4 linked regions of the Homo sapiens genome follow. The protein of the gene in region 2 interacts with the protein of the main gene of each other region in a biochemical or structural test. Each region holds a gene or a part of one and is shown on either strand. Other genes may lie near its edges. The genes, in order: RPS6KA5, KDM3A, MYOCD and MRTFB.

Evidence for each region.
Region 1: of the proteins of KDM3A (region 2) and RPS6KA5, one has a biochemical effect on the other in vitro, tested with the Homo sapiens proteins (one study listed by IntAct).
Region 3: the proteins of KDM3A (region 2) and MYOCD form a complex in vitro, tested with the Homo sapiens proteins (one study listed by BioGRID).
Region 4: the proteins of KDM3A (region 2) and MRTFB form a complex in vitro, tested with the Homo sapiens proteins (one study listed by BioGRID).

What each region holds. Positions count from the first base shown.
Region 1 is NC_000014.9:90,847,606-90,854,641, forward strand, and holds the end of RPS6KA5 (ribosomal protein S6 kinase alpha-5), read right to left. Parts: 3' UTR 256-7,036; downstream 1-255. UniProt on the Homo sapiens protein: Serine/threonine-protein kinase that is required for the mitogen or stress-induced phosphorylation of the transcription factors CREB1 and ATF1 and for the regulation of the transcription factors RELA, STAT3 and ETV1/ER81, and that contributes to gene activation by histone phosphorylation and functions in the regulation of inflammatory genes.
Region 2 is NC_000002.12:86,436,336-86,444,370, reverse strand, and holds the start of KDM3A (lysine-specific demethylase 3A), read right to left. Parts: upstream 3,001-8,035; 5' UTR 2,927-3,000; intron 2,911-2,926; exon of another isoform or gene 2,813-2,910; intron 2,702-2,812; exon of another isoform or gene 2,533-2,701; intron 2,354-2,532; 5' UTR 2,324-2,353; coding exon 2,138-2,323; intron 1-2,137. UniProt on the Homo sapiens protein: Histone demethylase that specifically demethylates 'Lys-9' of histone H3, thereby playing a central role in histone code.
Region 3 is NC_000017.11:12,766,890-12,769,485, reverse strand, and holds the end of MYOCD (myocardin), read right to left. Parts: 3' UTR 537-2,596; downstream 1-536. UniProt on the Homo sapiens protein: Smooth muscle cells (SM) and cardiac muscle cells-specific transcriptional factor which uses the canonical single or multiple CArG boxes DNA sequence. Acts as a cofactor of serum response factor (SRF) with the potential to modulate SRF-target genes.
Region 4 is NC_000016.10:14,066,856-14,074,338, reverse strand, and holds the start of MRTFB (myocardin-related transcription factor B), read right to left. Parts: upstream 3,021-7,483; 5' UTR 2,974-3,020; exon of another isoform or gene 2,933-2,973; intron 833-2,932; exon of another isoform or gene 758-832; intron 1-757. UniProt on the Homo sapiens protein: Acts as a transcriptional coactivator of serum response factor (SRF). Required for skeletal myogenic differentiation.

The sequences.
Region 1 (7,036 bases), on a different chromosome or scaffold from region 2:
TAAATGGGCGAGTGGCTTCCTTCTCCTTTTAAGCCGTCCTTCAGGGCAGTTCAGAAAACGCTGCATTCAGTTATCCACACACGGTTTTCATTCAAGCATAAGTTAATGTGAGTCTTCTAAGATGTAAATTCACTGATACAGATTGTTGTGCTTCTTTAACACTCTCACTTATTTCCAAGATCCAACATACCTACCCCCACGCCCCGAAAAGCAAACAAACAAACAAACAAACAAACCACAAGTCCAAGTCAGATATCAGGCATTTGTACATTGACAGGTTTATTCTTAAAGCTTGAACAAATACATCTTTACACACACACAAGTTGGTAAAAAGTAAGCCCTTACTGCTTTGTTAAAAATAAAACCCATACATAAAGCTTTCCGGTCAAATTCCCGAAACATGAAAACATCACATTTCTACAATACATCTGCTTTTTTGATTCATGTGTGTTTTCAACACAGCTCAACAACTCATTCCGATCTACCCAAACAAAGAGAAAACTAACTTCCAGACCATGAAGGAAAAAAAAATACATGCCTCTTATAACTGTTAAAGACAAGTAGCTATAGAATTCTGAAAATTCTCAATAAATAGTTACTAGTATAAAAATGCTTAACTCCATATAGCTCACCTTTAATCAAAGGCAGTACCAGTTATCGCTATAATAAAGCACTCAAAGAACATCGAAATAACTTCATATCTATAGCAACGAAGGGAACATGGAACATTAGCCCTCCTAAACAATTCCAGAAGAGGGAAGTTCATTATGAATTAATACTTGGAAGATTCTAGCCCAGCTAGAATAGATTTTAAAAAACTACAATAAAGTATATAAATATGAAATTCAGAAAAGCAGATAAAGAAAAGCTGTCACTTAATAACACAGGTGGCAGCAACCAAAAATATCATTCCCTCTGGGGGGAATTAATGCTAGATTAATGTGAATAAAATAAAGGAAAATGACATAAAATGAAGATACAAAATAAAATTGATCCTTGATGTGAGAATAACTGTATTCCTTGCATGTTCAGAATGTCCTTATGTTCTTCTAGAGAGACTTAGAAAAAAAAAGCCATGCAAATAAAAATCTCATTACATGCCAGCTGAGTGACTTGCAAAGGTTTGCCCCAGAAGGGCTTTTTAAAGAGGCTAAAGACATTCTAATTGCCATCCAAATTGATGTTTACACCAAAATAAGAAGAAATCATCTACTCCCAAAGCAAATCCTATCTATGGACTTCATAGAATCCCTTATACTTTGTAACATTTTCTGCTTCCTTCTTAAAAACCTAGGGGGAAGGTGAGCTCCTGGGACATAAATACGCAGGGAAAGAACCTCATTAAGCCAGGCAGAGGATGGCAAAGATCAACAAAAGAAAAGAGTCCACCGCACTCCAGCCTGGGCAACAGAGCAAGGCCGCATCTCTAAAAAGTAATAATAAATAAAAGGAAAAAGATGCAAGCAAATTTCTGCAAATAGAAGCGTTCACCCCACAGATGAGAAAAGGGGACTCAGTCGTAACCAGGAGAGCCCGCGCAGGCACCTTGGTGGTCTGAATCTAATAGATGCCACTCTCAAATTCTGAGGAGGATGAATTAGCTACTGCTTATCAGGCAACTAACAGAGCCGGCAACAGAAAGGTTACAAGGCCACCTTCGCAACCAGCCCTTTGAAACTGGAAACAAAGTTTTGGCCAGAGATGAACACGCACCCATATGTCTGAAGACAAAAGTTTTTTAAGAGGGCACGGACTCCGGATCTTTTATCTTATGAATAGATCCACTTTGGTTGGTAATTCTTCTGCCTGACAGGCTGCCTTGGGCTACTACACAGCTGATATGAGTGGACAGCAAAGAGCTGTGTAAACCTGTCTAAAACAGTGCACTTGGTGGCTACATACGGCTAATCGCTGCTAGTGTTTAGAGTCTGTGGCTGACTCATCTCAGTACGGTGACCTGGACTGCAGCAAGATCGGGCACAGCTTCCCTTAGGTGGGAGAAAGAAGGAATACCATGGAGGTGTGTGTGGATGTGTACGCACACAGGAGAGAGTCGGGGCTGGTGGGGAGGCAGAGAGAGAGAAAGGAAAGGCCAAAAGGAAAGTTAAAGGGATTTACTTTATTGATGCTAATGTAGGGGTCAGCTAACAGTAACAAGCTACTACTATTATTTCCCAAAGATGGAACAAAGGGTGACGTTACCCGTTGATGCTAGATGATGTCCTCAAACCTGACGTAGTAAAGGAAAATCAACACATTGTCTCACAGCTTTCTTACCTGGCAGCTGGCACCACATTAGAATCTCCATGGCCGTGCATGGTGGCTCATGCCTGTAATCCCATCACTTTGGGAGGCCCAGGTGGCAGGATCGCTTGAGCCCAGCCTGGGCAACACTGTGAGACCCCACCTATATTTAAAACAAAGGAATCCCCAGTCTCTTTGAAGTATGTGCCTTAGAAGGAAAGTTTCAGGACACTCTGGCACTTTTTTTCTAGTCTGGGAAGGGATCTGTGGGCTTTCTACAAGGGAGCAAACAACCTCAATTCTTTCCTCTGGGATCCCGTCAGCTTCTCCTTCCCCAGAGGTCCTGACATTGCTTACCAGCCATTGACCTGAAATGAACTGCTTCAACGTGTTCTGAAGGACCTTTAAATAAGAGATGGTAATAAATCCAGCTGCTACAGAATGACAAGAAGAACAGTCATGATTGTAGTCAATTTTAAAAATAGACATCCTTTCCCTTCTTGCTCCCTCCCATAAATACTAAATGGAAGAAGACACAAATAGAAAGAGAAGAAAGTATTTTTAATCTATTAAGAAAATGAAGAAAACAACCTAATCAATGTGGGAAACCATACAAAAAAAAAAAAAAAAAACAGAAAATATTACATAACCAGGCCTTTTAAATAAGGATGGAATTCAATAAAAAACTTAAAATGCTTACATCTTCTGAAATAACCCATGATTAGCTCCAAGTTTTAGAAAGTTCTTGAACAAAAGGTACACATCAAAGTAGTGAGGTAGCAGCCCCCACTTTCCCAAAAAGTTTTCAGGAAAAGGCTGCACAAGCACCTGTTGGTGAGGTCACCAGGAAGGAATCTGCTTCCGGCAGGAAATTGCACTGGGTGAGCTCTAAGGCTCCTAAACTCTAAGATTCTCGTATGTGCTGAAAACACTGCTATGACGACAGTTTGATCTGATCATCTATGCATTCCTCTGAAATAAATGAAGTCAATTCAAATAAGACATTCTACAAATTAGCCAAGCACAATGATATATTTTAAACCCACACTCAGACCGACAGTGTACACCATAAATTTGTACTAGAACAATACCCATAAATATAAAAAATCTACTTAATTTTATACTTTGTTAGTTCCTACTTCAAAATGCTAGTCAATATTCACTACAGAGAAGTGGGTAAAGATACTTTTATTTTATTTTTTTTTTGAGACAGAGTCTCACTCTGCCCCCCAGGCTGGAGTGCAGTGGCGTGATCTCGGCTCACTGCAAGCTCCGCCTCCCGGGTTCATGCCATTCTCCTGCCTCAGCCTCGTGAGTAGCTGGGACTACAGGCGCTCATCACCATGCCTGGCTAATTTTTTTGTACTTTTAGTAGAGACGGGGTTTCACCGTGTTAGCCAGGATGGTCTTGATCTCCTGACCTCGTGATCCACCCTCCTCAGCCTCCCAAAGTGCTGGGATTACAGGAGTGAGCCACCGCACCTGGCCTGGTAAAGATACTTTTAAAATTAAATTGCTATATAACAGAAAGTCTTCATTATTAAATATCATTCTACCCATCTTTGGAATCAGTGTACCTTATGGATTTTTTTAATCCTCTTTAATCGATCCCTCAGTATGCTGGTGAGACAGGGAGGCACAGGTTAACCCCATTTTACAGATGAAGAAATGGAGGCAAAGGGAGGCTGAGTGATTTGCTCAGGGTCACCAAGTCTGCAGCTAAGCTGGAAATAAAGTACCAAACTGCCTTTTCCACAAAATCCTCAGTAATACTCAGAGAGAGTGTCATATCTAGTACATTTTACTCTTCACTTAAAACCAAGGGTTCAGGGAAAAAGGAAGGAATTAAGTGAGCTCTTTGGGTAACCTTGTTTTCTTCTAGAGGATGAAGGTATTTCTCTTTAGATACTGGTAGATATCATTAGTAAAAACTGAATGGTTTTTACTAATAAAGCTGGGCACAGGCCAAGGCAGACATGAATGACAGGCTTTATCTTTCATGGCTCAGTTCTCACAAGAGGCTCACTGTACAAGGTCCAACTTTGCATCTAACTTCAACACACAGCCTTCCCAATCATCTCACAGCGTTTATTTGAACAAAAAAGACAGAATTTAATATATTCGTTGATCTAAAGAAATAAACAGTATTATTCAGTAATAGTCCTAGTATATAAAAACGTGGCATTCATCTACAGCAAAGACAAATTATCGGTATCTTTTCTTTAAAAAATCACTTTTTTTTTTTTTTTTTTTTTTTTAAGACGGAGTCTCGCTCTGTCGCCCAGGCTGGAGTGCAGTGGTGTGGTGCGATCTTGGCTCACTGCAAGTTCTGCTTCCCGGGTTCACGCCATTCTCCTGCCTCAGCCTCCCAAGTACCTGGGACTACAGGTGCCCACCACCATGCCTGGCTAATTTTTTGTATTTTTATTAGAGACGGGGTTTCACCATGTTAGCCAGGATGGTCTCGACCTCGTGATCTGCCCGCCTCGGCCTCCCAACACTTTTGTTTAAAAAATGGAAATTTCTTCTAAAATGGTTTTTCAAAGCTATGGCTCATAAGGAAATAACTAATTGTCAATGTCTAAATACCTTAAAAAGAAGCATATATGTAAGTATTAGTCCAATCATGTGAAACCCAATAAAACAAGATTTGATTTGAAAACATTTTCAATGAAAAGTGCAAAGGTTAAGGGAAAAACAGCATCTGATATGTGCACCCTATTGTAAAGAATTGGTATTTAATGCTGCAATGGAGTACTAACCACTAATTTCCAGTTTGCCACATGAAAGGCATACTTCCAACTTTTATTTTATCCACATTAAAAGTATTTGTCTTTAAACAAAAATAAATTCCAGTTAGCCTTTGCTGGGAGAAACTTTTTTTTTTTTTTTTTTTTTGAGACAGAGTCTTGCTCTGTCGCCCAGGCTGGAGTGCAGTGGCGCGATCTCGGCTCACTACAAGCTCCGCCTCCCGGGTTCATGCCATTCTCCTGTCTCAGCCTCCCCAGTAGCTGGGACTACAGGCGCCTGCCACCACGCCCGGCTAATTTTTGTTGTATTTTTAGTAGAGACAGGGTTTCACCATGTTAGCCAGGATGGTCTCAATCTCCTGACCTTGTGATCCGCCCGCCTCGGCCTCCCAAAGTGCTGGGATTACAGGCATGAACCACCGTGCCCGGCCTGGGAGAAACATTTTTAAGTGTGCAAAGCAGTCACAATGAAAAAAGCCCCGGATGTTAGCAAAAAGAGTGAATGTGTTTGCCGTTCTATAAATAAAATGAGTTCACTATAAAAAAAATTGTTATGATGCTTTACTTAATTTGCCCATTTCTCAACATAGGCTTTGAAAAATTCCTCTAAATGAAACAACTTTATAAGGGATGAAGATGTCATAATGATATTTTCCACTGTAGAAACTTCTTAGGTTATCACTCAAAAAACAAAACAAAAGCCAAAACCTAGCAGAAACAAATGACTAATCAAACTAAAATTTCAAAGAGTAGATTCATCAAACTAAGATCTCCCATTAAGACATCAACAATGAAGTGGCTAATAAAAAAGTAAGCATCACATTTATGATGTCTAGATAAAAGTCAACCAAATAAATAAGATGCATCCCTTAAGTAACAACAATAAAAAAAAAACCCAAAAACAAAACAAAGCATCAATGGATGTTTTAAATACCTAAAATTTAGGTTGGGCACAGTGGCTCACGCCTGTAATCCCAGCACTTTGGGAGGCCGAGGCAGGCAGATCATCAGGGCAGGAGTTCGAGACCAGCCTGACCAACATGGTGAAACCCCATCTCTACTAAAAATACAAAAAAAAAAAAAAAAACCCTAAAATTTAACACTATGAAGTCTCTATATTAAATCAAAATCGTAACCATCTTGAAAGCTAAATTAAAATAATCCTGGAGCTCTGGAATGTTATTCCCTCTTAAAGCTGTATTAGGTCTTTAGGAAATCAATGTGGTGTTACTAGTTTATGTGTATCCCATTATTCATTTAAAAAGAAACGAACACAAATATTTCACACCCTTTTTCTTGATTAATCATTTGTACCAGAGAAAACTCTGTATATACCAGTACAGGTGGGGGATTACTGGCAGGGCAGATAGTCGATTTAAGGAGTGAGGGGCAGTCTTATTAATTTGGTATTGTAAGCCCCCAATACATGTGTGTATACACATACATAAACACACACCTATGTAATTTTCACAAGACCAAACTATTAAAGTACCTAGAAAATAGAATATTTTTTCCTCTAAACTAAGATATCTGTTTATATAGACTATTGATGCAAACTAATTTTAAGTAATTATAGTGCAAGGAGCCTGATGTATGAAGATTTGACATTGTAATTTATAATTCCTAAGTAATTATTAAATGATTAATGTTTAATCATTAATCATTTAATAATAAATGGCTACCAGATTTAGAACAAAACTTACTGTAGCCATTATAATCTGCTAACGTTTGAAAAACTTAACATGAAATCAGCACAGAAACTAAGTTTTTAGAAATAGCCTACATAATGAAGATTATGTATTATATAGTCACAAATTTTTATTTTAGATTTCACAATGTACACTTGTCTCAAGTAAGTCTATTTAACTAGAATTTTTAAAGACTTGCGATTTTGCTAAATGTATCATCATTAGAAAAAGTTTTCTGGATGTGTATATGAGCAGGGTTTGATTATTCTGACATCAGAAAGCCAACACTAGATTCCACAGCAAGGACACTGGAATTTAAAAATCTGGAATACTTTAACAGTAGACTTTACTCAA
Region 2 (8,035 bases):
GGTTGAGTTGTGATGTGTACAAGTAAGGCAAAAATCCAACCTAGCCAAAATTGTTTTTGACATGAATTCCCAGTTGTCTTCAGGTTAGGCACCAAAGTGCAGTGGAGAAGACACTGGGCCCAATCTGGATTCGCAGCCTCCCTCCGCAGCTAATTATGCAAATCTGGACAAGATTCCTTTTCCTAAATCTATTTCCTCATTCTGAAAATGAAGATATCACCACCTCCTCAAAGGATGGGGGCGGAGGGAGGAGATTTAAAAAATATATACATGTGAAGTTCCTCCTAGATTGCCTGCCTAACCCAACAGGTCCTCAATTGCTGCTACAGAAGGGAAGGGAACGCCTAGTCTCTCAACATCTGCCAAAGAACTAAAGACTGGAAAGTTTAAATAAAATCTTGTTTCCATTCAAATCACATAAAAACAAATGCACTAGAGAAAATTTTATTTGGCAGGCGAAATAAACCACAACAAGCACGACTGAAATCTAGTACACAAAGCCCAGCTTACAGAAAGGTTATAAGCCCAAAGCAAAAAGGTTGGCCATTCTTGCACCACAATATATTATCTCTATAAACATCAAAACCTGATTTGGCAGGAGAATGAGCCGAATGCAGGAAAAAACCAAACCTCACAGCCTATGACAGGAGCTCTGCTGTGGCATAGCTCTTGATCACTGGCCTGATGGTTAAGAGGGCAGCTTCTGGAGTAAAACTTCCTGGGTTTGACAGAATACAGGCTATGTCAATTCCTACGTATGTGTCCTTGGCAAGATGCTTAACGTCCCTCAGGCACAGTAGTTTCATCCATAAAATGGGGGCAATATTAGTACCTACCCCCAAGAACTGCTGTAAGGATTAAACGAGATCATAGTTGTGAAGTGCTTGCCACATGGTTAAATGCTCTTCGGTCACTCCTCCTTTTCAACAAGAGACAAGGCACAACACTGAAGCTTTAAAACATGCCTAACAGCATACCCCTTTCCTACAACTCTTTGCAGATAAATACCAGTTTGGGCATACACTGTCACCCTGAAAGTGTTCAAATGAACAGTGTTTCAGAAATCAACATATAATCAACTGCCAATGCTAAAACTTGCTGCCTTTATTTGAACATAGTTTAAGAAAAAGCAAAGATGATGGCCAAGTGAAGATTCTGAAACACATCTACTAGGCAGGGTGGAAATATCTTCTGTTCTGACAAGCTTCCTTCAAGTTATCACCACTTTGGAGTCTTTGTTAGGAACCTTTTTTCAGTTATTTTCGCACAAAGGAGTCTTTGTTGGTACAATGGCTTCCTCACTGCTTGTTCCCAGACAATCCTTTCACATCAATACTTCTATTAGGGAGCACAATCAGAATTCATCTGTCTTTGAAAAGATCTAACAGAAAAAGGTTCTGAGTGTCATAATGATTTAAAAAAAAATCACTGGCCGCACTTGTTCCCAATTCTCTCCCTCCCCTCATGCGTCCAAGTGCAGTATTTCTAAGCCAGTCCTCCAATATGCCATATATGGGACAGCTCCACCCCATCCCTCCATATATGGTCATATCCCACACCCACCCACCGGCTCATCACAGACAACCAGGAACCCACTCCTGCCCTGACCCACCATATACGGACAAACACCCATCCTAATACGCCAAACAGAACTTAAGCTCCTCCCTCTACACTCACTTCATTTTTAACAAGTCTGAAAGTTTTTTTAAAAGTTGAGTGAATAAATTAACAGGAACAAACAAACAAAACCAGCTGAAAGTACTTCCAAGCACTAACCTTCAATTCTTAATGACTCCAAACGTCACTTACAGGCCCTACCTAACGCTAACAAAAATACTCCTCCTCCTCTGCAGTAAAGATGAGACAGTCCTGGTGGGACACAGCACCGGCATTAATGAAGCGTGTCTGAACAACCCTAAGCCCATTATTAAAGCCAGGCAGCCAGGAGCTGTGGGCCAAACACAACTCGGCTCTATACAACCATTCCAAAGACTTTCAAGATCTAGCTTCCTGCACCTTCAGATCATATGCCAACTTTCTGGTCTCCGTTTTCAGAAAACGGAAGGAGGGAACCGATGGTCGCGTTACCACGGTAACTGCGAAACGTCCGGTGGCAGAGGCCCGGAGCCGCCTGTACCTTCAGATCCTTCTTGGTAACGTCGGTGTGGGAAACAGCTCGAATGGTCCCGGAGAGCCAGGGCCACTCGGCGACGCGCTCCACGTCCCAGCTGTCGTGGCTGCCATCGCTGCCGTCGGCTGCGGACAGACTGAGAAACCTCCTCCCCACCAATACCGGCCAACTTTCTCCGAGCGTGAGCACCATGGTTTCCACGCCTGCAGGAAGAGCTCCTCCCTGCAAAAACACAAAAACAAAATGCGACGGGGGCGGCCGGTGGGAGGGGGCCGGGCGGAGACAGCAGGGAGGGCGGGCGGAGGGCGCCGAACCCGCGCGAGGACGCGGCCCCGGGCGGACCCGCACCGAGCCCCCCTCCTGCGCCCTCCCGCCCCCCGCCGCCCTCCCCCGCCACACACCCGGGCCCCAGCGCCGCGTGACCCTCGCTCTCCCAAGTTTGGCTTTTCTAACAGCTCAAACGCAACCGCAGAGGGAGTGAGGGAAAAATTATCTGCGGCTCGAGTGGATTTGAAAGTGCTCAGCCCCCAGCCCCGAAAAGAAAAGGCCCCTGGTGCAGAGAGCCGGTCCCGGGCGGCTGGGTCCCCGCCCCGGGCGGCCCCACGGGGGAGGGTGGGCGAGCCCGCGATTCCGCACTTGCCCCGCCGCCCCGCCCCGGCGCCCAGCTCCCCGGCCCCGAACCCCGGGCGCCCGTCTCCCGGGCCTGCGCCGCTGCCAACGGGCGACGGGGCCGCGCGCTCGGCGCTTTCACCTTTCTCTCCCCTCTCCCCGCAGCCGAGGCCGCGGCGCTCTTACCCCGCCTCCCGCCTCCCTGAGTCACCGGCGGCAGCCGCCGTTTCCAGCCGCCTAGCCGACTCCAGCGCTGACTTGGTTCAAGAGCTCTCACAAGACACGCACAGCCTCCCGGACCCGCCCCCCTCGGAGCCGCTTCCGCCGCTCATTGGCTGAAACACAGGAGCTGGGCGAGGCTCCGGGGGAAACAGATCATCACCATTGGCCCCCCGGGCGAGGGCGGGGCCAGAGAAAAAAACAATTCCTTGGCTGCCTCCTCCCTTTCCCCTCCCCCTTCCGACTCCCGGGCGACCCCCATTAGGTTAAAGTACACAGAGAATAAGCGAGTGATCCCTCCGCCATAGGCCTATTCTTTCCATTTGTTGCCTCACAGTATGCAAAAAAAAAGTCCCGCGAAATCGGTTATCAACTTTGGGGCCCGGAGGAAAATTGCTGTGGCGCATAGATAAGACTGAATGGCGAGACCCTGAGCTATAAGTGCCTACTGGATTGTTCTTCAACCGCGTAGGCTGTCGACCGAAGATGAGCCTTCCACTTGGCGGAAGAATCTCACAGGAAAGGGTGAGGGCGGTGCAGGGTTAGCGGGGGAGGGCAGGGAAGAGAACGTGCGGTTTCAGGCGTACTCAGCTAGAGGGAGGAGCGATAGTGCTCTGGAGGCTCGTGCGCAGGCGCCTCGCCGAGCTTAGGCTGCTGGGCGAAATGGCTGCGGGAGGCGCAGGCGCACGTGGTACTGATCGTGGAACGTCTAAAGTCCGCCATTTTGAAGGATAAATGAAGAAAGGCGTGGAGTTACTGGATAATGACGTTCATTAAATTTAGAGCAAAAGAGACCTTTAAATACAATGTATAATGAGATTTTTTTTTCTCCAAAGTGGGATTGAGAAGGTATTCAGATACTTACAAAGAAATTTAAAGTAGTTGAAGGCCATAATGAATGATGGAAGAGATGAAAGAGAAGGTGACTTTGAAGGACAAAGGAGTTTAGAGGTGATTGTGTGCTCTGGACCTGAAGTATTTTGATTGAATGAAAAAGAAATGGAATGAAGAAATTGAAGATATGTTCATAAAGGCTAGTGTTTGACATTACATCACATTTAATCCTTAAGAAGAACTCATGCCTCCCATTTTACAAGCGTGGAAACGTATAATCAGAGAATGTTTGGAAACATATAAGGGATTATAGATGCAAATCAACTCTGGATGTTGATTTTCAATATACATATTCTGAATGTGATTTTAAGTTTTTAAAGTTAGTAACAAGAATTAAATTGGATTTATAATCTGTAGACCATTTAAAGGAAGGGGGCTGCTAAATGAGAAGAAAAAACCTATCCAGCTGAAAGAAGGCAGAAATGGGAACGAGATAAGCAAAAGAAACCAGAACATATGGTAAAAATGTTTTTCATGTGAAAAGTCCAAACATCAGTATTTACAATAAATGTAAATGGGTTAATTTCACTCACAAGTTTTAAAAGACAGTTGGGAATAAAAGGACAATCCAGCTATAAATTGACCATAAGCAAATGCTTACAAAACAGGAAGCTTGAAAATACTGGGCTAAAATATTTAATCAAATGGTAGCCAAATGAAAGCAGTATAGCAATATTAATACAATTAAAAGTATCAAAAGAGAAAGGATTTTATATTAAAGATAAAGTCCATGAAGACAGTATGGTCTCCTGAACTGTTATGAATCTAAAAACATGGCCTATCCTAAGGTGACGCTATGAACGATGAGAAATTTTACAAATTTGACAATTTGTTTTCAGAGTAGAAGACATAAATATCTCAGAAATATGCAACTCAAATGTAAAATATAAGGGAAGATATGGAGAACTTAGATTATGTAATTAAATATTAATTTGAAAAACAACTCAAGGGAAAAATTCTATTGAACCTGAAGGAACATATACTTTCTATGTTGAATTCATTATTTCAGAGCTTAGAAAAGATGGAAAGATATCCAATGCATTTTATAAAAGTTATAAAACCGTTTCACAAATTCTGAACTGGGCGAGTATAAGAAAGAAAAACTATGGTTCAATTATACTTAGGAACATAGATGGGAAATTCTTTTATAAAATACCAGCAAATTAAATCCAGCAGCATTTTTTTTAGGTAATTGATATGATTAATTAGTGTTATATGAATGCAAAGATACTTCAAGATTAGAAAATTACTAAAATTCACCATGACAGGTTAAAAAAGAAAAATCGTATATTCACCTTAGGGCTAAATAGAGCATGCAGTCACATTGAACACTTGTGATCTTAAGAGTATTTTTAAATTACATAGAAAACTAAGAAGATTATAAGTGTACACTTATATTCAATACCACCCATAATTTTTAAAAAATGTTTTTAAACTTTCTAAAAACCTAGGAATATAAGTTACGTACCACAGAAAAACACCCACACACATATGAACGAAAAAACATCTGCAAATAACCTAAGTGTACTCCAGTTGGAGAAGGAATAAATAAAATTATTAACAATAAATGGAATGTAATGCATATATTGGAAAGTTGTAGAGGATTTGTAAAGGAGTCAAAGCAGCTAGATGTTCCAATAAAAATAGTTACCAAAATACATTATGAATGAAAAAGAAATTTGCATTTGGTACTATTTCAAAATACACATACAAAAACAACAGTATATATGTTCTGTTAAATATGGTTATTAAAACTTACAGTAATGGTTACTGGTATTAGGGGGTGCACACTAGAATTAGGGGTATTAGTCAAAGACAACACATATTATTTGTAATTCTAATTTTTTATAAATACACTTTTTTTGTATTTACATTTTTATCACCTTATTTTTAATTGACAGGTAAAACTATATGGTGTACAATATGATGTTTTGGTATAGATATACATTGTGGAATGGCTATATCAAATTATTTTACATATGCATTCCCTCACATACTCATCTTTTTTTGTGTGGTGAGAACACTTAAAATCCACTCTTAGCAATTTTCAAATATACAATATATTGTCATTAACTGTAGTCACCATGATGTACATTAGATCATTTGAACTTATTCCTCCTGTCTAACTGAAATTTTGTGTCCTTTGACCAACATCTACCCAATCTCCCCACTCCCTGTAATTCTCTCATTTTATAAGGTAAATGTACTCACATGTTACTTTTAAAATTTAATTTTTAACTCTCATTAATGGAATCTGCTACATTAACAAATTAAAGGAGAAAATACATATGATTATCTCAATAGATACACCAAAAATTTTATATACTTCATTTTCATTCATTATAAAAACTCTTAGCAAACTATCAAGAAAAGAAAATTTTATAACTCTATAAAGGATATCTACCAGAAATATACTTAAACATTGTACTTAATTGTGAAATTTTAGAAAAATTCCCAATAAAGTCAGGAGCAAGATAAGGATGCCCAATGCTGTCATTACTATTCAAGTTACAATAGAGGTTAATTGCTAATGTAATAAGACAAGAAAAATAATACAATGTAAACATTGGAATGGAAGAAAAAGCCCAAAACATTTGTAGATAAATCAAAAGCATCAGTGACAAATTATTAGAATTAAAACAAGAATCAAAAAGATAATGCAATAAAAGATCAACAAACGAAAATCAAAAGAATTCCTATTCCTTAGCAAGCATCAATTAGAACATACAGTAGAAAAATAAAAACCATTAATGATAATAAAACATGTAATCCCTAAAAATTAATACATGAAATGAACACAACCTATATGAAGAAAATTAGACTTTGCTGACATGTATAAAGAAGATGAAAAATTCTGTCTCTTGATATGATCTGATAAATATGTCATTTCTCCTCTAACAAAACAACAAATAAAAACATCAAGACATAAATATATAAGTAATGAAGAGAACAAAGAAACAGACCCAGTGTATATTAAAAATTAGTTTGTGATCGACATATTTCTAGTGGGTGTAAAGAATAAACTATGCAATACATGCTTTGAGGTCTATTGATTATCCATTAAAAATGTATATATAAGCCGGGCGCAGTGACTTATGCCTGTAATCCCAGCATTTTGGGAAGCTGAGGTGGCAGATCACTTCAGGTCAGGAGTTTGAGACCAGCCTGGCCAACATGGTGAGACCTCATCGCTACTGTAAAAATTAGCTGGCTGTTGTGGTGCACATCCACAATCCCAGCTACTCGGGAGGCTGAGACAGAAGAATCACTTGAACCTTAAACCCAGGAAGCAGAGGTTGCAGTGAGCTGAGATCACGCCACTGCACTCCAGCCTGGATGACGAAGCAAGACTCTGTCTCAAAAAAAAAAAGTATATAATGTATATATAACCAAGATTCCTACACCAACATTCACGAAAATAAGTTCCAGGTAGATCAAAATGCTACATATTTTAAAATCCAATAAAATATTTTAAAATTCCCTCCTCTCTTCTACTTTTTTCTCTTTCCTTTCCTCTTTCTAAACATTTCAGTCTTGAGGCCATTAGGAGGGGCAGAGCAAGATAGGTGTTAATAAGGAGAGGCTGTCAGCCATGGGATGTTAGAGCTCTAAAGAGTAAGGAGTAATAGCCGGGCATAGACAGTCAGAGCCCAAGTGGGGTGAGAAGGGTAGACACACAAAAGGTTAACCTAGCCTGGGTTATCTAGAGTCCAAGTGAGGTGAGGAGGGCATCCATGAATGGGGGCAGCCTAGTGTGGTATGTTGGAGCCCAAACAGAGTGAAGAGACTGTTTACATGAGAAGAAAGCCTGGCATGAGTAACAGAGCCTGAGGAGGGGGAGGAGAGTGTGTAGGAGAGTGATTTGACATGGATGTCAGACCCCAAGGAGGGTGAGGAGGGCATTCATGTAGGGACCAGCAGTGGGCACTGAAAAGACCAAGAGATCTCTTAGAAGCAGCAGGAGAACCAGGTGAGAGGTACATTCTGGAAGCAAGCCAAAAAGAGTTTCAACTTGGAAGACCATGCAGTAAGGTCAAAGGATACACTGAGGTGAAGACAGATGGAGGACTGAGCAGCAGGATATTGAAACTGCCAACAAATATATTTTAGCCACTGGGTATTGCCAGAAATAACTTCCACTGGTTAGTAAAAATTATCCAAGCTTCAGGGTATATATTCCAG
Region 3 (2,596 bases), on a different chromosome or scaffold from region 2:
CACCAATGACAAAATAATAGGCAGGAATAAATTTAAGAGGAAAAAGTAGATTAAAAACTAGGTCTTATTCAGGAAGTCTATACATATAGGCCTCTTGATACCCAGTTTATCCTACATTATTATTCAACTTGCTCAGTTACTAAACTGATGAAAACATTGAATTCGCTAAGTTGTATATGTATGTATGTATCTTAATGGGCATATACATAGCTTGAGAATCTGTTTTGCGAAAGTTCTGATTGTATTAGTATGATCCATAGTAAGTATCAGTTCAGACAGTTTGTGCAGTGCTTAAGATCCGGGCTTTGGAGGCAGGCAAATCACAGTCTGACTCTTGGCTCTGCCATTTCTCAGTTGTGTAACTTTAGGCAATTTACGTATCCTCTAAGCCTGGTTTCTTTATTTGCAAAAATGAGGATAATAATGGTACTACTTCATGGGCCCATTGTGGGAATAAAAGGAAATAACACATATAAATAGTACATAGCATAAGGCCTGGGTACATCACACAGCCACGAAAAAAAAAAAGTTTTACATTTCTTTTTAAAATAAACATTTTATTTAAAAATATATGCATTTTTTTTTTTTTTTAAAAAAGAACACATGCCAACTTTGGTATTTTAGCCACTGCTTTTTGTCTCTTCCCAATAACCCACATTTCTTTCTGATTATGCTCAATTGAGCCAAAGAGACCAACGTGAAAACACCACTCCACAAGGTCCCACAGAGAACCTATGCTTGCTCTTTTTTTCTTTACAAAGTGTCTCTTTGTGCTTCACTGAGGGAGGATTTTAAGCACCCAGCAATACATTGTCCTCCGTTCTTACTGCAGGGCCATTGGAAAGGAACTCTGGGGAGCAGTGTGGGTTCCTTTCCTTTGGAAAACATTAAAAAAGCTTCCAGCATCCCCATCATTATACTCCCCTTTTCCATGAACACACAGGAGCTATGAAACCACTTCTAGGAAATGCATGCTCCAGGGTTCACGATGGGAGCAGATGGTTAAAATAAGCACAGGAGACCTTCTGGCGTTGGTTTGTCTTAATCCACAGGGAAAATCGCTGATTCCCAGAATCAAAAGGGAACTTACTCACATGTTATTGCATTCAATGAGTCCTGTGATAATTTCCCTGGCAGATGACAACAAAATTCTTCCCAGATCTCATCCTGTCTTGAAATCGTCTCCCCATGGGTAGGCTCAATCTAGCCAGGGTTTCTCTATAAACCTGGACTCTAGAATCAAACCCAGCTCCTTAACGCAACTGACCAGATCTTGGCACTACAGGATTGTCTTGTTCCAGGACCTGGGCTCTGTGTGTCTATCAGTATCATCTGTCTAATAAAGCACTGGCAATTTTGACCCTGAACCAACCTACAAATTTATATTGGATTTATGAGAAAACCAAGAACCCAGACTCTTCACTACAGGTTTTCTCATATCTGATATTTGATTGCAAACTGTGTACCAGCAATTTTGGGAACTTCCTTCTGTGAGGAAGGCAGCTGAGGGCTGTGGGGGGAAATCAAATTGCCTTCATATTCTTAGATGATTTTCTTTTAAGGGCCAGAGGCTCACCAGTAAGTGTCCCTTTTGTCTATAGAGCTGCTACGATAAGTAGGGATAGGACACAAAAATGCTTCCTCCACCCTTTCCTTATTTTCAAGGGGCTTCTGTATCTGGCAATCAACACAAATCTTCAAACTCTCGTGGATGTTTTAAATGATGGGAGATATTAAAAGATCTCCAAGTGATAGACTACTGGTGTTTGTCCACAAAGAAAAAGACAAGAATTTTGAAGTGAGAGATAGCTTTTAGCTAAAAAGTGATCCCCACCTCCACCCCCTCTTGGAAAAATGAAGACCCCTTTTTTTTTTTCATCGTAGCTGAAAGGTTTCTAGTTTGAGGACTGGGAGATTCTTAGTGTTCTTGCATGTGCAAATACAACTCCCTGGTCATTCAAATCTGAACAATCTGTGCTGAATCAATTCAGTATTGTTTATCTGAAGATTTGTGTGCTCTGCCCATGGTGGGCATTAAATATTAGCCACTGGATGAGTAAATTTGTTGTGGGAGTTTTCAGCCAGACCAGAATCTGTTTCTAAAAGAGCTGATTGACTTTAAAATAAATAACATTTGGAAAGGACTATTTTGAATGCTTGGGATAGGTTTTATTGATGCTTTTTTTTCAGGTTGGACATAAATGTTTTTGAATGGCAAAAGGCTGACAGTTCTCAGACCCTCTATTATTCAGGTGAAGATTGTCTTGGTTTCCTCAATTACTGGTACAATTATTGTAGTGCTAAGAATGACTTCTCCTTAAAAAAATTCTGATTTACTTCTCATAATGTGACAGCTGAACTGAGAAGTTCATAGATCAGAAAGTTTGGCCCTTTTTTCCTTCCCTCCTTTCTTTCCTCTCTTCTTTCCTTCCTTCCCTTCTCCCTCCTTTTCTCTTTACCCCCCTACCCATCTCCTATCTTCCTTCCTCGCTCCCTCCCTCTTCTTCCTCCCTCCCTCCCTCTCTTCCTCCCTCTTTCTCCCTTAGAATAGAATATGTGTTGTCTCAATAACGTTGATAGAAGCAGGGTCACTACT
Region 4 (7,483 bases), on a different chromosome or scaffold from region 2:
AGTTCTGATTTTAAAAACCAGTAATGACCTCTTTTACCCTGGAACAAGATACTGCTTGCTCAAATTAATATAAATTCATTACTCTCAATTTGGATAAATTTCCATCTCCAAAGTGTTCAATGTCTCTAACTCTAGATAATTTAAAGTATAGCCTTCTGTTTTGACAGCAGTCATTACCTACATGTCTGTTTCCATAGCACCTTTCAAACGTAACACGCAACTAATAATAAACACCTTACATCAAGAAGCAACTCGTCTATTCAACAAAAAAAAGCCAAATAAACTATTATTAAAAGAAGAGTTAAATGTATAATGTTACAATGTAGGTAACATTGTAACATATATAAATGTTATACGTAGGTAACATATAAATGGTCTGAGCTGAACTTTCTTAACTCGATTTGCATTTTCCCCTATGCAGCAAGACTAGCAAAGTTTGAAATGAAAAGACAACTGCTAACAAATCACACCATGAGGACTACTGGCATATGTGATTACAGGTAATTTTAAGTTTTACCTTTGAATACATCTGCATTTTCCAAATTCTCTAATATAGATATTAGTAAGCAGAAGAAGCTATTTAAAGGGTGATTACACTAGTTTAGATTATACTTAACTAAGACTTATTTCTACACATTATTGTTGTTGCTTCCCAACTCCATTCTAACCTCAATCTGCTACTTGATTCAAGTGTTTAGTTGTCAACATTTCCATTAAACACAGCCAATCTTTCAGACAGAGGGACACAGGTACTAACCTGACCTCCCATCTGAGATTCTAGAATAATCAATGAAAGCGCCACTAACCAAAAGCATGCTTTTTGTACGTCAGACACTTCTGAAAGAAAGAAAAAACAAAACAGGACAAAACTCTCAGCAAAAACTGTCTGTTAAATTTCCTTTTATAATTCCTATTATAATTGACTAGATAACACTGATGTTTGGAGTGGTTCTCCAAGGAGCTGGAACTGCCCCCAAGGAACATTTTTAGTTATCAAAGAGACTGGGGGACACCGCTGGCATTTAGGGTTTGGGGGGCCTGGATCTAAAAGACTTCACACAACACATAGGTGGGACAGATCTGTATAATGAAGATTCGCCTGGTACGAGAGTCTTTCAAATGAACGGGCAGATTAAGCCCACTATAAACTGGCATTACTTTACAATATTTAAAAGTTTTTATAAGAAATTGCAGGGAAACTCCAGTAATGTAGGAGAAAGTAGCAAGGGAAGCTTAAATAGAGTAAGGGAAAACTGTCTAAACATTAGCGATCGTTTCCTCACACCACACACCGTTAACATACAATTGTAGTATCAGAATACTGAGCATATACAAACAAGTGAGATACTGATATTGAACCAAAAATTTTCAACCTTGTTAATATTTTATTAATTATTACCAATGGTAATTGTTAGGAAGCCAGTATTGTCCCTTCGAGTGTGTGACACAAAAAATTCTACAATATAGTTTAAAAATATGGATCCATGGAGGGCTTGTGCTAATATTTACGTATTTATTGAGACAGTCTGTTATTTGTCTTGCCATGTTATCCCTAGTTCAATCTAGGTTGTTTCTCTCTTTAATTCGCAAGAAACAGGTTATGCCAACCTAGGTGTTTTTCCCAACCTCCGTCTGTATCTCTGCTCTTTCCCTGAAGTAGCGGCCTCACTCTGTAGCCCAGGCTGGAGGGCAGTGGTGCAATCACAGCTCACTGCAGCCTTTAACTCCTGGGCTCAAGAGATCCCCTCACCTCAGCCTCCCAAGCAGCTGAGACTACAGGTGTGCGCCACCACACCACGCTAATTTTTTCTTTTTTTGTACAGGTGGGATCTCGCTATATTGCCCAGGCTTGCTCTTGTTTGAAATAGCTCCTCCTAATTTTTTTTAACCAATACAAATGTACTCATTAGAAGCTGGCACAAGCACCCCAGTATATACTGTCTTCCAGCACAAGAGTATGTCCTAGATGTGAATGGTACAGCAACATCTGTCATATACTGTTCTCTATTTCGCCCTTACGCTTCAATCAAACCATCATACTGCTTTTCAAGGATGTGTGTAGGGAGGTCACATTGTTTATGAATTTCATTTCAGGGTAGTAAAGAGGGCTTTATACATGTTTGCTGCAAAGGGGAAGAAGGGACCTTGATTCTGACGAGGTTGAGAACCACTGTTCCCAAGAGTGGAATCGCGTGCTGAAACAAAAATCGAACTTTTAGAGAAGAGTTTCCTTTGCCTAAGGCAAGCCCTGGGCTCCAATATTCCACTTCATTGGGCCTGACACCCCACTACCAGCACACGCCCGCTGCTCTCAGCCCACCTCTGCTTCCAAGCAGGGCCAAACAATGGTTCTTGACCACTTGGGGATCGGGGACCCTTTTAGGAACGAGACAAAAGCCCTGGAAAAACTCTCTCCCAAGAAACCCATATACCAAGCTGCATCCAACTTCAGGGCGCTCCCAGACACCCCCTCTGAAGCCTGGTCGGGACCCCAGGAGAAAAGGGCTGAGGGGAGTGGGAGGTGGGAAGAGGAAGGGGGCGCAGGGGTCCCGGTCCCCTCCCACCGCCTCCTCGCAGTGTGGCTCTGGCCCGGGCGCTCCACCTCTCTGTGCAGCCCCGGCGTGCAAGCGCGCAACTTAAGTGCCCGGCACACAGCAGAGGCTCCATAAACGCCGCTGCCACTGTCAGCAGGGCCAACTCTGCAGTCGAGATGGACACTGAGGCGGCCCCGGGGTCGCGCCCGGGCGCGAGGACCGGTTGAAGGAGGCACCGGCCCGCGGCCCCGGCCGCCCCGCCCCGCGCGAGTCCCGGGGACGGTGCGGACCAAACGGCGCCGCAGCTGCTGCGGGGACGAACAGGGATGGCTGCCTGGGACGCGGGATGTTCACCAGGCCCGCTCCCCCACCCAGCCCTCGGTCTCGGCCGCTCTCACCCGGCCTCAGCCCCCAACGGCCGCCACCGCCCGCCGCTCACCTCCCCGGCCGCCGCCGCCGCCGCTCCCGCCGCCGCCGCGCGATCTCGCGAGACTTCGCTCCCCTCGGCACTCCCCCTCCTCCCCGCGGCGCGCGCGGACCCCAGGCTAGAAGCGGCTCGGCGCGCTCCCCGGACGCTGCCCACCCCGCCTCAAGGGTCAAGCCCGGCCTCTCTCGCTGCTCGCCCCCGACTCCGTCCCTGCGTGCACTCCGCCCACTCCCGTGACTGGGAAGGGTTAAAGCCCAGGTGCGAGGCGGCCGCCTCCTTCTCACCTGGCCGGCCGGGTGCGCGTGCGCATGCGCATGTCCGGGGCTCGGCCCTGAGCCTCTGCAAAGGCTTGGACGGTGGCGACAAAGGTGACCGCTGCCACCCGTCCTGAGTGCTCGCTGCGCGCCGAGCACTTAACAGCCCCCTTCGGTCCTCACACTGCCCTCCAAAGTGGGTATTACCAGCCTCCCCATTCTAGAGAGAGGAAAAATGGAGGCCTGGCAAGGAAAGTACAGTAATGGCTCCATGTCACACAGCCAGGAATTGGCTGAGCCAGTGTTGGGATCTGGGGTTGTCTGATGCCCAGCCCAAAACCCATTTCTGCACCTCAGTGACAGCCCCCAGGCCCTGTCCCTCTTTCCGTTCAAGGCTCAAGGCGCTGCCTCTCAGCCGCAGTCTTCATTCTCTCCCAACATTCACCAAGGTGAGAGGAGGAGCTCCTGGGAAGTCATTTGCTACAATCTGTTTTCAATGGAGCTGGCGACAGTAAAGTGCTTCTCCCTCACTTTACAAACTTCCCAAGGCCTGTGAAGCCCCTGTGCCACTCCCTGTGCAGCTCTGAAGACTGTGTGACTATTTTTATGCGGTTCTGTCTCCTCCTTAGACTGGTGGCGTTTTGCTGGTAGAGAGCATGATGGAATGGCACACAGGACAGAGAATCAGAATGTACATGATGTTAGCACACAGAAAAGTGTGACTTCTTCCCAGGAGTAAGTCTTAATGAAATAATAATTGTTTGTAAAGAGGAAGGGCTAACATTTATTGCGGGCATATCAAGGTCATACCAATCTTCTTGCAATCCTGGAGGTGGAGAAAGTAGCCTGTTTCCATTGTGAAATAGGATTTGAACCTGGGTCTGAGTCCGGAGCCCAGCACTACCTTGTAGGTAGGTCCTGTTCTGCAAGCAAGCGAGCATGAGCTAGCTCATCTGGGCCGGCTGCTGTAAGATCAGGAGCCCTGGAGGTTCTAGGTAGCCTTCCACCTGCAACAGCGTCTGCATGGGCTTACCCAGCCCACCTGATAATCACATCAATGTCAGCAAGTGCTGGCCTGCCCATGCTCCAAACCTGTCCACTCTCCCCGGAACCAATTGCTGTGTACAGGCCAGAGCATGTGGGTGCCCTTGCATGTTTCAACCTCACTCAACTCACCAGATGGAGGAAGTGGGTGAAGAAGGAAAATCACACCTGCTGGGCAGCTACAAAGTGCTGAGCCCTGCTCCAGGTGCTGTCTATTTATTAATTTATTTAGCCCTCCCAACAACCCTGTATTAGGGTTCTCCAGAGAAACACAGCTACTAGGTTCTAGATAGATGTAGGCTGGGCAAGGTTGCTCATTCCTGTAATCCCAGCACCTTAGGAGGTCCAGTCAGGAGGATCACTTGAGCCTAGGAGTTTTAGACCAGCCTGGGTAACACAGTGAGACCCCGTCTCTACAAAAAATAAAAAGAATTGGGCATGGTGGCACATGCCTGGAGTTCCAGTTACTCTGGAGGCTGATGTGAGAGGATCTCTTGAGCCCAGGAGTCGAGGCTGCAGTGAGCTCTGACTGTGCCACTGCCCTCCAGTCTGGACAACAGAGTGAGACCCTGTCTCTAAAAAAGAAAAAACTATATAGATTCATAAGAGGGGATGTATGATGGCAGCTGAGAAGTCCTACGATGTGCCATCTCCAAACTGGAAAGCCAGGGAAACTGGTGACATAGCTCAGTCGCAGTTGTGGCCCGAGAACCAGGGAATCTGATGGTGTAACTCTCAGTTCGAGGCTACAGGCCTGAGAACTTGGGAGCCACTGGAGCGAGTCCTAGAGTCCAAAGCTGGAGAACCTGGGCTGGGCGCAGTGGCTCATGCCTGTAATCCCAGCACTTTGGGAGGCTGACGCAGGTGGATCACCTGAGGTCAGGAGTTCAAGACCAGCCTGGCCAACATGGTGAAACCCCGTTCTCTACTACAAATACAAAAATTAGCCAGGTGTGGTGATGGGTGCCTGTAATCCCAGCTACTGGGGAGGCTGAGGCAGGAGAATCGCTTGAACCTGGGAAGAGGAGGTTGCACTGAGCTGAGATTGCATTATTGAACTCCAGCCTGGGCATCAAGTGAGACTGTCTCAAAAAAAAAAAAAAAAAAAAAAAAAAAGCTGGAGAATCTGGAGTTCTGGTGTCGAGGGACAGGAGAAGATAGTGTCCTGGCTCCGGAAGAGAAAGAGAGAATTTGTCTTTCTTCTACTGTTCTATCCAGGCCCTCAACTGATGGCGATGAAGGCAGATCTTCCTTACTCAGTCACTGATTCAAACACCAATCTCTTCTGGCAACACCCACACAGACACACCCAGAAGTAATGCTCTACCAGCCATCTGGGTATCCTTTAATCCAGCCAAACGGATGCCTAAAATCAACCGTCACAAATCCCCTGTGGAAGTTATGGTTGTCCCCATTTTACAGATGAGAAAACCAGGAACATAAGAGGTGAGAGGACATGCCCAACAACACACACAGCAACACGCAACGACACACACAACACGCAACGACACACAACAACACGCAACAACACACAGTTGGCAAGTGGTTGGTTCCACCCCAGATCAGCCTGTTTCCAAATGCACAAACTTTGCCTTTCGTGACCAACAAGGCTATTCCCTACCTCAAAAGCCTTTATCTTTATGAAACAGAAAATCCCCAAATCCCCTGAGGTCAGGACTCCAGTGTAAGATGCTGTTATGTTCTCCTCCGGGTGGCCAGTGCCTCAGTGTTCTCATCTAACATAAGAACATGAGTAGGGAAAATTAACCAACTTAATATATGTGAAGCATACGGAAAAGTGCCTTACAAGATTAAGCACTCAGTAAATCAAAGCTGTTATTACCATGGGTGGATTCTTTGTGATATTTTATCCTTTCCTCATTGCCCAGTAGAAATAGCAATTCAAGTAGGAGGATGGGCTCATATACAGAAATAAAATTAGTTTTTAGGCCAGCTGTGGTGGCTCATGCCTGTAATCCCAGCAGTTTGGGAGGCCGAGGTGAGAGGATCACCTGGGGACAGAAGTTCGACACCAGCCTGGCCAACATGTTGAATCCCCATCTCTACTAAAAATACAAAAATTACCCAGGCATGGTGGCGGGCGGCTGTAGTCTCAGCTACTTGGGATGCTGAGGCACAAGAATCTCTTGAACCCAGGAGGTGGAGGTTGCAGTGAGCTGAGATTACACCACTGCACTCCAGCCTGGGTGACAGAGCAAGACTCTGTCTCAAAAATAATAAAAATAAAATTAGTTTTTAATTATATTTCTGAATGAAATAAATAATTCTGAGAACAATAAATATTTTCAAAATGGGCAGAATTACTCCAGTACTTCCCCCTAGTCATGAAAGGATACCAGCTCTCCTGAAGCAATCTCTTCCCAGTTTCCTGAGGGAGGGGCAGTCTGCTTTATAAAGGACTCTGCTTTTATAGGAAAAGCCACCCAAATATTTTTAAAGATATGACTTGGAAGTCACTTCATAGGCAAAAATAAAAGCGAAGAAAAAATTGAGCTGAAACTTAAGAGAATTTTGATGTGGTTAAGGGTTAACACCAGGCTGGGCACCATGGCTCACACCTATAATCCCAGCACTTTGGGAGGCCAAGGCGTGCAGATCACTTGAGGTCAGGAGTTCAAGACCAGCCTGGCCAACATGGTGAAACCCTGTCTCTACTAAAATTACAAAAATTAGTCAGGTGTGGTGGCGCATGCCTATAATCCCAGCTTCTCTGGAGGTTGAGGCATAAGAATCACTTGAACCCAGGAGGCAGAGGCTGGCAGTGAGCAGAGATCACACCACTGCACTCCAGCCTGGGCAACAGAGGGAGACCCTGTCTCAAAAAAAAAAAAAAAAAAAGAGGGTTAACACCAAAGTGACATCATGATTTGAGGGAACGTTTTATAGGAACTGAAGTTGCCACTAACCTCAGGCCTTGCTGTGCCAAATTTAGGTTTCCATCCTGACACAAGATGTGCCATACTTTCCCATCAATGTGAGCGGCTCCCTGTGGACCTGTGGAAGTGATCCTCATGGGGAAGGGGTGGGCATAACAAGACCACGGGGCGTTATTCTTTGAAAACAACAAACAAACAAAATGGGTAATTCTGGCCAGGCATGGTGGCCCACTCCTGTAATCCCAGCACTTTGGGAGACTAAGGAGAGAGGATTGAATGAGGCCAGGAGTTTGAGACCAGCCTGGGCAACATAATGATACCCTGTCT